Homo sapiens: one gene and its partner. The protein of the gene in region 2 interacts with the protein of the main gene of each other region in a pairwise test. Each region holds a gene or a part of one and is shown on either strand. Other genes may lie near its edges.

Region 1 (5,177 bases), on a different chromosome or scaffold from region 2:
ACAAACAAACAAACAAACACTCTGAAATTAGAATGTGTCTTCCAGAAAATGGTGTTATATAATCAATGGGATCTAATGGGATCTTTCCTCCTCCTCCTTTTTTTCTTCTCCTCCTCCTCCTTCTTCCACTTCTTCGCAGTTCATGAAATAATGGCACATCTTAAAAATGCTAGCATCTTATATTTGGTTAAATATATCGATTGGCAGATAGATAGACTGACAGAGAGAGAGAGGAGAGAGAAAAGGAGAAGACAGAGATGAAAAGGCAGAGACAGAGGGGTGAGGGAGCAAGTTTCAGAGAGAGTTCTGGGCCAGGTCATACCCTTGGGGCTGGACACGGCCCCCCAGCCTGAGATGAGACACTGCATGCCTGGGGAGACACAGGTCTGGCTGAGGTTGAGGGGCTGCACAGCAGGACTCAGACGTGCCTGCCTGGGCAGGCGGATCAGCATGATGTCATCATTGTGGTCATTGGCGCTGAGGTCCTTGTTGAAGCCAGGGTGGGGGAAGAAGTCCGTAACCCGGAACAGCTGCTCCGGACCCTCCCATTTCCAGAGGTGGTGCTCTCCAAGGCGGACCCACAGATACCTGCTGGGACAGGCCTCAGAGGTCAAGCTGGGGGAAAGGTAAAAGTCCTTTCAGCCCCAGCCCTCTTTTCCTGTCCATCAGGGTGCTGTGTGACCCTCTGCAAGCCACACACCCTCTCTGCACCCTCATCATCTATGTCTGGCCCAGGGTACTGTGATTTTAAGCGAGGCACACACCTCCTCTGGGTCCCTGGTCCCCACTCTGATGTTTTGTGTGTCTCCATCTTTGTAGCTCTCCCCACAAAGCCCCCGCTCCTAGTCCCAGGCTGAGTGAGCCACCTTCCTCCCTACTCACCTGGAGCCTTGGTGGTGACTTGGGTCCCTAGGAACGGTGTGGGCACGGGGGACCCCACCTACCACATAACAACCGCCCCACCCCTGCCCCCACAGGTCTGGTGGCTTCTGTGGGAGCGGCTCTGTATGTCTAAGTGGTGTGTGTGTATACGTGTGCGTGTGTATGAAAGGGGATGGGATATGGAAAATCCCCAAATTGGGGGTCATCTCTGGCCTCAGCTTTTCCTGTCTATCATATCCTTCACCCTTCAATGCATGTCTTCCTGGTGTCTAACCTTAAGCCCTCACCACAGTCTCAGCGCACTTGTTTCATTTCTGGTCCATGCCCTAGACAGCTGGGATCCTTTCGGGGATGACAAGTCCATTCCCCAGCCTCTGACCTCTGACATTAGGCAGCAGGCTAATGACTGCGAATTCAGGGTTGGGGAACCAGAAACATCTGTGTCTGTCTCTCTCTGTCATTCTTGCTGTCTTGGCTCTGGATCTGGAAAAGTAGTCCTCACCCCTACATCCCTTCATCCCCCTACCCTTCCCCTGCCTCTCACTCTCTTCCACCTTCATATCTCTGCATTTCTCCTGCTTCACTTTCGGCTGAAATCTGAACATCGTTCTCCCAGTCTGATGTATAGGCTTAAGTTAAAGGAGGTTCCATCATGGAGCAATGCATGATGGGAAATTCCCACACAGCATCTCTTACCACAATCAGTGCTTTACTCATGGAGGGAAGAAAATTGGAACAGTATGGATGGTCACTTTTCAGAGGCAATGGAGAGAGGATTCCTGCATCAGGTGGATTCCAGGATACTATTAGAATGCCCAGAACCTAAGATTCTAGAATTCTCAGATTCCGACACACTATTATCCATGATTCTAGAATCTAGAGGCTCAAGGTTTAGAGTTTTATGAATCCAAGATTCTAACATTCCAGATTCCCCTGGATCAAAAAAACTCCAGGATTCTAACATTATCTGAATTAAATCTAAGATTTGAACATAGAATTTTAATGTTCTAGGACAAAAAGACTAGAATTTTGGCTGGGCGCGGTGGCTCACGCCTGTAATCCCAGCACTTTGGGAGGCCGAGGCGGGCAGATCACAAGGTCAGGAGTTCAAGACCAGCCTGGCCAATATGGTGAAACCCCCGTCTCTACTAAAAAAAAAAAAAAAAAAAAAATAGCCTGGCATGGTGGTGCATACCTGTAATCCCAGCTACTCAGGAGGCTGAGGCAGGAGAATTGCTTGAACCCGAGAGGCAGAGGTTGCAGTGAGCTGAGATTGTGCCACTGCACTCCAGCCTGGGAGATAGAGGGAGACTCTGTCTCAAAAAAAAAAAAAAAAAAAAAAAAGAAAGACTAGAATGTCATCATTCTATAAATCTATAACCTTAGAAATTTAAGAGTCTGGGATTCAAATAGTTTAAGACTACAGAATTATCTGAATCTCAATATTCTAGGATACTGTGAATCAAAGATTCTAGTACTGTGAGTTTCAATATTCAATGAATCTAGAAAGCTCTGAATTTAAGATTCTAGGATCACACTAGCCATTATGGCTATTGAACACTTGAAATGTGGCTAGTCCATTTTGTAACAGGCTATGTGTGTAAAATACAGAACAGATTTCAAAGGCTTAGTACCAAAACAAAAGTAAACTGTATCGTTCATACGTATTTAAAAATTGATTACATGTCAAAATAAGTTTTTGGGTATGTCAAGTTAAATCTATTAGAATTAATTTTACTCATTCCTTATTTTTTAAATGTGTCCACCAGAAATTTAAACTTACACATGTGGCTGGCATCATAATTCCTCTGGGCAGTGCTGACCCAGACTGCTAAGATTCTAATAGTCTGCGAATCTATGATTCTAAAATTTGCTGAGGCTATTGCAGAATTTCATAAATTCAAGATTTTAGGATTCTACGATTCTGGATTTCTCTGGGTCAGTCTCGGATTCGAAGAGCCTAAGTTTCGAATCTTAGACTTCTCAAATGAGATATTGCTGGTCTCTAGAATTTTAGGATTTGGGAGGCTACCCTTCCTACTTCTAAGAGTTGAACTTGTGGTATCAGAAGTGGAGGCTCCGCACTTCTGGCCTAAAGCACCCCTCACCCTCTCCTGACCCCCAGCCTCTGTCCCTCCCCAGCATGGCCAGCCTGGGTCACTCACGGCTTGCGGCAGTGGGCAGCTGTGAGCAGCCAGCGGTCACTGATGAGGGTCGCCCCACAGAAGAGCCGAGTAAGGTGGAAGAGGCCGGCCTGCCAAGGCTGGGAGTTGGGGCGACATTCCTCGGCCCCGATGGCACGGGTGTCTGCCCAGCCATGCCCTGGGGTGGGGATGAGGGACAAAGGGGTCAGCGAAGAGCAGGCTGGGAGGGCAGGGAGAGGATGCTGAGAAGCCTAGAGGGCAGGAGGCAGAAGCCTGGGATGGGAGGGAAGAGCAAGGTGACCTTAGTACAGCCGTGAAGGGGCAGCCAGCCTGGGAGCCTCACCTGCCAGCAGAGAGAGCAGAGCACAGAGGAGTCCCAGCTTCATGACCCCTGGGCACCTGGATCCTGGAACGTGCACCCGGCGTCCAGTGCTTCTTTATGGTAAGCCATGCCATCTCCTTCCTCCTCCATGGGGCCGCCCCTGTGATTAATCGGGGTTGGGAAATGTACCTGGGGGAGGGGGAAGCCCTGGGGCTGTGACAGGGGCCTTGGGAGAGGAGGTAAGTGCAGGGGGACCCCCCTTTTGGGATGAACTGGCGGCTTGCTGGGCCAGAGCTTGACTGAATGGAGGAGGAGTGCTGGGGGTGTGGAGAGGTTGTGGGCACCTCCTCTGGGGTCTTCAGAGTGGGAGACCTCATTCCTCATCACCTTAGGCTACAAGATACAGAATCTTTTGTGTCCTGGAAAAGGAGGGAGATCCTTGAAGCCTAAGGTCCTGGGGTGCAGCAGGTTTATTTTGGATAAAGCAGTGGTGTGCAGAGACCAACCTCCCACGGCAGGCTGGAGGGATGTGCAGGGGGACCACCCAGAAAGGAGGCGAGGGGTGGAAGACAGAGTCAGGACTCAGACACAAGAGCAAAAGATACAAAGAGAGGGAGGTACAGGCACAGAAGGACCCAAGATGAGAGGAGGAGTGGGAGGAGGAGACAGAACACGGGAAAGATTGAGGGAAATCCAGGTGGAGTGAGGCAGAGACCACAGGCAGCTGCACAGGTTTACACACCTTGCAGAACCTTCCCTGCCCTGGGGATTTGGGCCTCTTCCCACAAGGACAAGGCCCTCTCCTAGAATGTTGAGAAATCTGGTTCCATCTGGATTAACCCACTCTTGTCATAACCTGCCCCCTTCCCCACGGCTCCACCACCCAAGGACCCAGGTGCCCAACCTTCCAGGTAGCAAGTGCCCTGTGCTCTCTCTTAATACATCCTGATCTTTGCCAAATCCTGAGAACATTTGCTATATATTTTTTTCATCCATCTCCCTGCCCCCCACCCCATTGTCCCTTCCATCACCCCATCCTCCCTGCCTCTCTCCTCATCATTCCTTCTCACCAGGTGGACAGCTTCTGGAGGGCTGGGCCCAGGTCTGACTCATCTCTGTGTCCCAGCATCACCCCGTTCCAGGCGGAACAGGGCTTGCAGAAGTCCTCAGGAGATGTTCATTGAATGAGTGAATGTCTTTCTCCATATCCTTCTTTTCCTGGTGAACTCCCACTCATCCTTCAACACCCAACCTCAATTCTCCCTCCTCCAGGAAATCTCTGAGATCCTCAGGCAGAGTCCATCTTTGCCTCCCCTGGGCACTTACGATCCCTTCCACTTTCTCCTGCTCACAGGCCTGGTTATGAAGCTGGGTCTGGGCTCCCCTTGAATGTTCTCTCACTGTGTCGTCATGGTTTGGAGCATGGACTCTGGAACTGAACCATGTGTGTCCAAATCTCAATGATTAGGTGTGATTAGTGATGAGGTGTGTGACTTTGGGCAAGTCACAAGACCTCTCTCAGTTGCTCCATCTGTTTTTTGTTTGTTTGTTTGTTTGTTTGTTTTCCAAAACGGAGTATTGCTCTGACACCCAGGCTGAAGTACAGTGGCGCGATCTCAGCTCACTGCAACCTCTGCCTCCTGGGTTCAAGCAATTCTCCTGCCTCGACCTCCCAAGTAGCTGGGACTAAAGGCGTGCGCCAAGACACCTGGCTAATTTCTGTACTTTTAGTAGAGACGGGGTTTCACCATGTTGGCCAGTCTGGTCTCCAACTCTTGACTTCGTGATCCGCCTGCCTCAGCCTCCCAAAGTGCTGGGATTACAGGCGT
Region 2 (4,600 bases):
GGGGCCAGTCATTGACTCTGAAAGGGTGTCCTGCCTGAAACACTCGGGTAATTGCCTTTTTATTGCAGCCACGGCCAAGCCAGACCCCAGAGCTGGGCAGACCGGGAGCCTGCACAAAGCAGGAAAAGTTGCTCTGATTAATATTACGTTAAATTAAAACTGATTTCCTGCTCTTTCGGGTCTGTTTTTTTCCCTTCCGCTTCCTGGCCCCCCTAGAGTACCCCCTCCCCTCCATGGCTGGACGGGATTGCCTCGTCATTTCCAATTCCTTCTCGTATTGATCTTCCTGTAGAAATCAGTTTTGTAATTAGCTGCAAATTAGGCCTTCTACTGGGGGTGAAGCTGCCCCCTGATTTATCACCAGAGTAATTCGCTGTGATCGGAGAGAAATTAAAATGAACTCAATTAGGCTTCGGATTTGCTTTATGGGCCCTGCTCCGAGTTTCAGGGGGAAAAATGACTGTGCTGGTGTTTAATAGTCTAATGAAAGTAAATAAAGGTTATTCATTGTAATACAGGCGGGGACTCAGGGAGGGTGCACTGAGCCGCCCGCCTCGGCCAGCTCCTCCTTTGTTGGTTTATGGCTCAGGGCACCTTAAAAAGACTTTTGATTTTTGTTTTATGAAGACAAACAGCTTATGGGATAAAAGGACGGGCGGGGAGAAAGGCGAGTGGCTGGGAGCTGTTGGAGTCTTAAGAGTGGAACTACAGCGTTCAACGCTGTGGGGCTGCACTGACGTGCATGTGTGGGTGCGTGTGTGCATGCATGCAAGCACAGCAATGCTGTCTTGTGCTGTGACTGTGGGCCTGGCCTGGGCTGCATGTGTAGCAGGGATGGGAGTGTGCCCCTGTGTGGGAGCGGGTGTGCTGGGGGCTCCACCCAGCGTATGTGGGTGGAGGCATATGCTAGGGGTATGCTGAGCTGGTGATCTGGGGGCAGCACACACCCACTGGCTCCATGCGGCTGCCGGGGCTAGCTGTGAGTACCGTGGGCTGTGGGTGAGGGAGCAGGTGGGCGGTGGTGTGTGAGCACAGTACCGTGGGCTGTGGTCGGGGGAGCAGGTGGACAGTGGTGTGTGAGCACAGTACCGTGGGCTGTGGGTGAGGGAACAGGTGGGCGGTGGTGTGTGAGCACAGTACCGTGGGCTGTGGGTGAGGGAGCAGGTGGGCGGTGGTGTGTGAGCACAGTACCGTGGGCTGTGGGTGGGGGAGCAGGTGGACAGTGGTGTGTGAGCACAGTACCATGGGCTGTGGGTGAGGGGAGCAGGTGGATGGTGGAGTGTGAGCACATGCACACCAGCACATAGAAAAGTTCGGAGATGGTTTCTGCGTTGTGCGTTTTGCTGGTGTGTTACATGCTGTGCCCCATGCTATGTGTCCTGGGCTGCTCAGTGTCTGCAGAAAGTGTTGGGTGTAAGTGGGAAGCTGCCAGCCTACCTAGGGTTCCATTGAATTGCTGGCTTGGGGAGCAGGAGGCAGGCACAGGCAGGCTCTCCTGACACTGGGCAAGGAGAGCTCCCCAGTCTAGCGTAGACTTTCTGTAGGACCCTGAGGGGGTGTGGGCAAGGGACACAGCAAGAGGATGTTCCTGAGTACTCCATGCAAGAACCACAGAAAAGCGGAGCTAGAAGGGACTTGACAAACCCTACATCCAAGCCCTTCATTCTATAGATGGGGAAACCGAGGCTCTGAACAGAGATGATTTACCCAAGGCCATACTCTTGCACCCAGAACTCATTTCTAATTACCATATACAGACCATAATGATTTGTCTTAACGATACCATACTGTCTCATGTGAGCCTGTTCACACTGCACACACACAGAACACACGTGTGTAACACATACAATGCTGGCTATGCATGTGGTGTTTAGTGAACAAGTTTTTGAGAGGCCTTGCTCTGCCGGCTCCTTTCTACTTCTGCAAGCAGAAAGCTCCCTCCTCACCTGTTCTGATTTGATGTGCTCTGATGCCTGGAAGACGTCAGGGTAGGAAGGACGCTCAAAGACCCGATCCAAAGCTTCCAGCTGCTGCTGGGTGAAGGTGTCAGCTCGCAAGTGCTTCCGCAAACTGTCCACACCACTCTGGGAATCTCCATTGGGGACTGAGCCCTCAGACACATCTGGAGAACACATGGACACTCGGGGCGTTAGCGCCAGGCCAGCAGAGGCACAGGAACAGTGCAGGGCAAAGAGGTGGGCATCTGGTTCCGGGCCCAGGAGCTCTGCACCCCTATGGGACCCCTTACTCTCAGCCCCTGGGCCAGTGGGGCTGACACCAGAGGGTGGCCCTGCCTCAGAGATCTGGCTGAGGAAGCCCAAGGAAGAGAAGGACCTGAGGACCTGGTAAGAGATGGAGCGGTCACACTGTGGGGTCAGGAAGGATTAGGCAGAGGTGGAGCCAGGGGGCTCCCAGGAGCCAGCTCCCTGGGGCATGTCTCCCTGAACCACCCCCTGCCCCCAAGCCAGGGCCAGCCTGGGGAAGAAAGAAGCTGGGTGTCTCAGACTGGCATTACTGAGCCTGTGGAGAATTGAACTCGGCTCCGAGATGAATTTCAGTTCCACTAATTCCAAGGGTTGAAAACCATCAAATTTCCGAGGCCGAGTGTAACCTGGAGACTGGGTGAAGTAATCAACTTCGCCCTGAGGGAGGAGGGGCTCTGAGGCAGAGCTGAGGCACTCTGCTTGGGTTGGGCCAGGACTGAGGCCAGAGGGAAACCAAGCGGGAGGAAAGAGGTGTCGCTAGAGCAGCAAAGCTCCCGCTTGGGCAGAGCCCACAGAAGGGCCCCTGTGGATGCCTCTATGCCCTGGCCGCCTTCTCGGCCTCTGTCTCCAACCTAGACCCAGGCTCAAGCCTCCTACAGGAGCCAGTTTCTTGGTCACCTGGTTCCTCCTGCAAGTCTCCAGAGGGAGCAGAGTCTTATCACACCGGTGCCTGCTCCCCTGAGTCTACAGGCCAATCCTGTCTCCATGTCCCCTTTCCTCAGGCGTTCTCAGCCCTCCCCTATCCTTGCCTCCCAGCGTCGGTTCCTTGGAGTTTTCAAGGTGTACAGTAGGCAATGTGCCTGCTCTGTGGCCTCTCTCTGAACCCACACCTTGCAGCCCCCCAAAGTGGGGTTTCCCCCCCAAACCCCATACCAGCTTGGTCACTCCAGGCTTCCCTCAGCCCAAGACCAGCTGAGGAGCCTTGGGCCTGGGGCCAGCCCATGCCGGAGGCCCCAGGGTGTTCCTCTGGGAATGTTATATATATCAGTTTATAGGTGATTATACGATATGATATAATCAATATTGCATTATATACAGTAACACCATACAGTATCATTCAGGAGACCATAGAAAATATTACATATTGATTAACTCAACCTGCAGCCATCCTCCCTTGCTGGCCTCCCAGACCGAGCATGGGGTTTGCTTTCCTAATGTGACCTCCCATCTTCCCTCCATATCTATTCTGGAGGGGGTGGGAAAGCAAAGAAAGTGTGTGTGTGTGTGTGTGTGTGTGTGTGTGTGTGTGTGTGTGTGTGTGTGTATGTGAGAGAGAGAGAGAGAGAGAAGGAGAGAGAGAGAGAGAGAGAAGGAGAGAGAGAAAGAGAGGGAGAGAGAGACAGAGATCAAGACCAGGACCACATCTGAAGAAGACAGACAGAAGCAGCTTCAATGGTATTTGTTCCCATGAACACAAAACTTGGTGGTTGTGGTTTCTTCTGCATAAGGCTCTGGAATCATTTCAGTCTTACGGGATGTATGCATCAACATATGAGTTGAAAGTTGAAGTGTGGTAAATTTATTTTTCCCTTTTGTGTGAGTATTGCGTGTCTACGCGCTTGTACATATATAAACGTCCAGATAAACAAGGGTCTGCGTGTGTGGAAATAGAATGAGAAGCTTCCTGAAAGAATGTGTGTGTCTGTGTGTGATTGCATGAGGACTGTGAGGCCACATGCCCCGTTTCTCCTGTGCCTACTTCTTTTTTCAGGATGTGCCATCATCCTCATTTCACTCCCTGTAGCTATTTGCGTGTCCTATTGTGTTTGATTCTCCCTTCCTGGAGCCCTCCTACCTTTTGGGGAAGCCGGACTCTCAGGGCTGAGGAAAGCATCAAATATCTTCATATATGGTTATTGTAGGGGCAGAGAGGGTGTATTTGTGAGCGTGTGTTCACACATTATGTGTGTGCATGTGTGGCAGGACTCTCCTCATGCCTCTGTGTAGATTTGTGTATATGCCTGTCTGTGTGTGGCTTGGCTCACTGTGTCTGTGTGTGTGTGTGTGTGTGTGTGTAGGGGCTGAACTGAAGCTTTGTCCTCAGGTCACTGGCTGGAGGAGTCTCTTTGCCTTCATTTATTCAGGGGCCCTTCAGATCTTGACAAATCTGTCACTCTAAATTTGCGAGAGATTATGGTGCTCTCTCCCCGGCCCGCAGAGAGGTGATATATGATATCTGCTGCCCCTATTGATTGCCTGATCTGGTGGCAGAGGCCGGCGAAATGAACTTGAAATGAACATCATGCCTCAACTCATTGTGCGTATAATACACTACTTAATCCCACATTTTTCAGCCGCTATGGAATTCAATTGATCAATCATGTTCCACTGATAGT

Evidence for each region. Proteins that work in one complex are often made in the same cells at the same time.
Region 1: the proteins of PAX2 (region 2) and KLK9 interact in a two-hybrid assay, tested with the Homo sapiens proteins (one large-scale study listed by BioGRID and IntAct).

The regions. Positions count from the first base shown.
Region 1 is NC_000019.10:51,006,136-51,011,312, forward strand, and holds the start of KLK9 (kallikrein-9 precursor), read right to left. Parts: upstream 3,458-5,177; 5' UTR 3,413-3,457; coding exon 3,370-3,412; intron 3,205-3,369; coding exon 3,048-3,204; intron 589-3,047; coding exon 323-588; intron 1-322.
Region 2 is NC_000010.11:100,803,952-100,808,551, reverse strand, and holds part of PAX2 (paired box protein Pax-2), read right to left. Parts: intron 2,123-4,600; coding exon 1,947-2,122; intron 1-1,946. UniProt on the Homo sapiens protein: Transcription factor that may have a role in kidney cell differentiation. Has a critical role in the development of the urogenital tract, the eyes, and the CNS.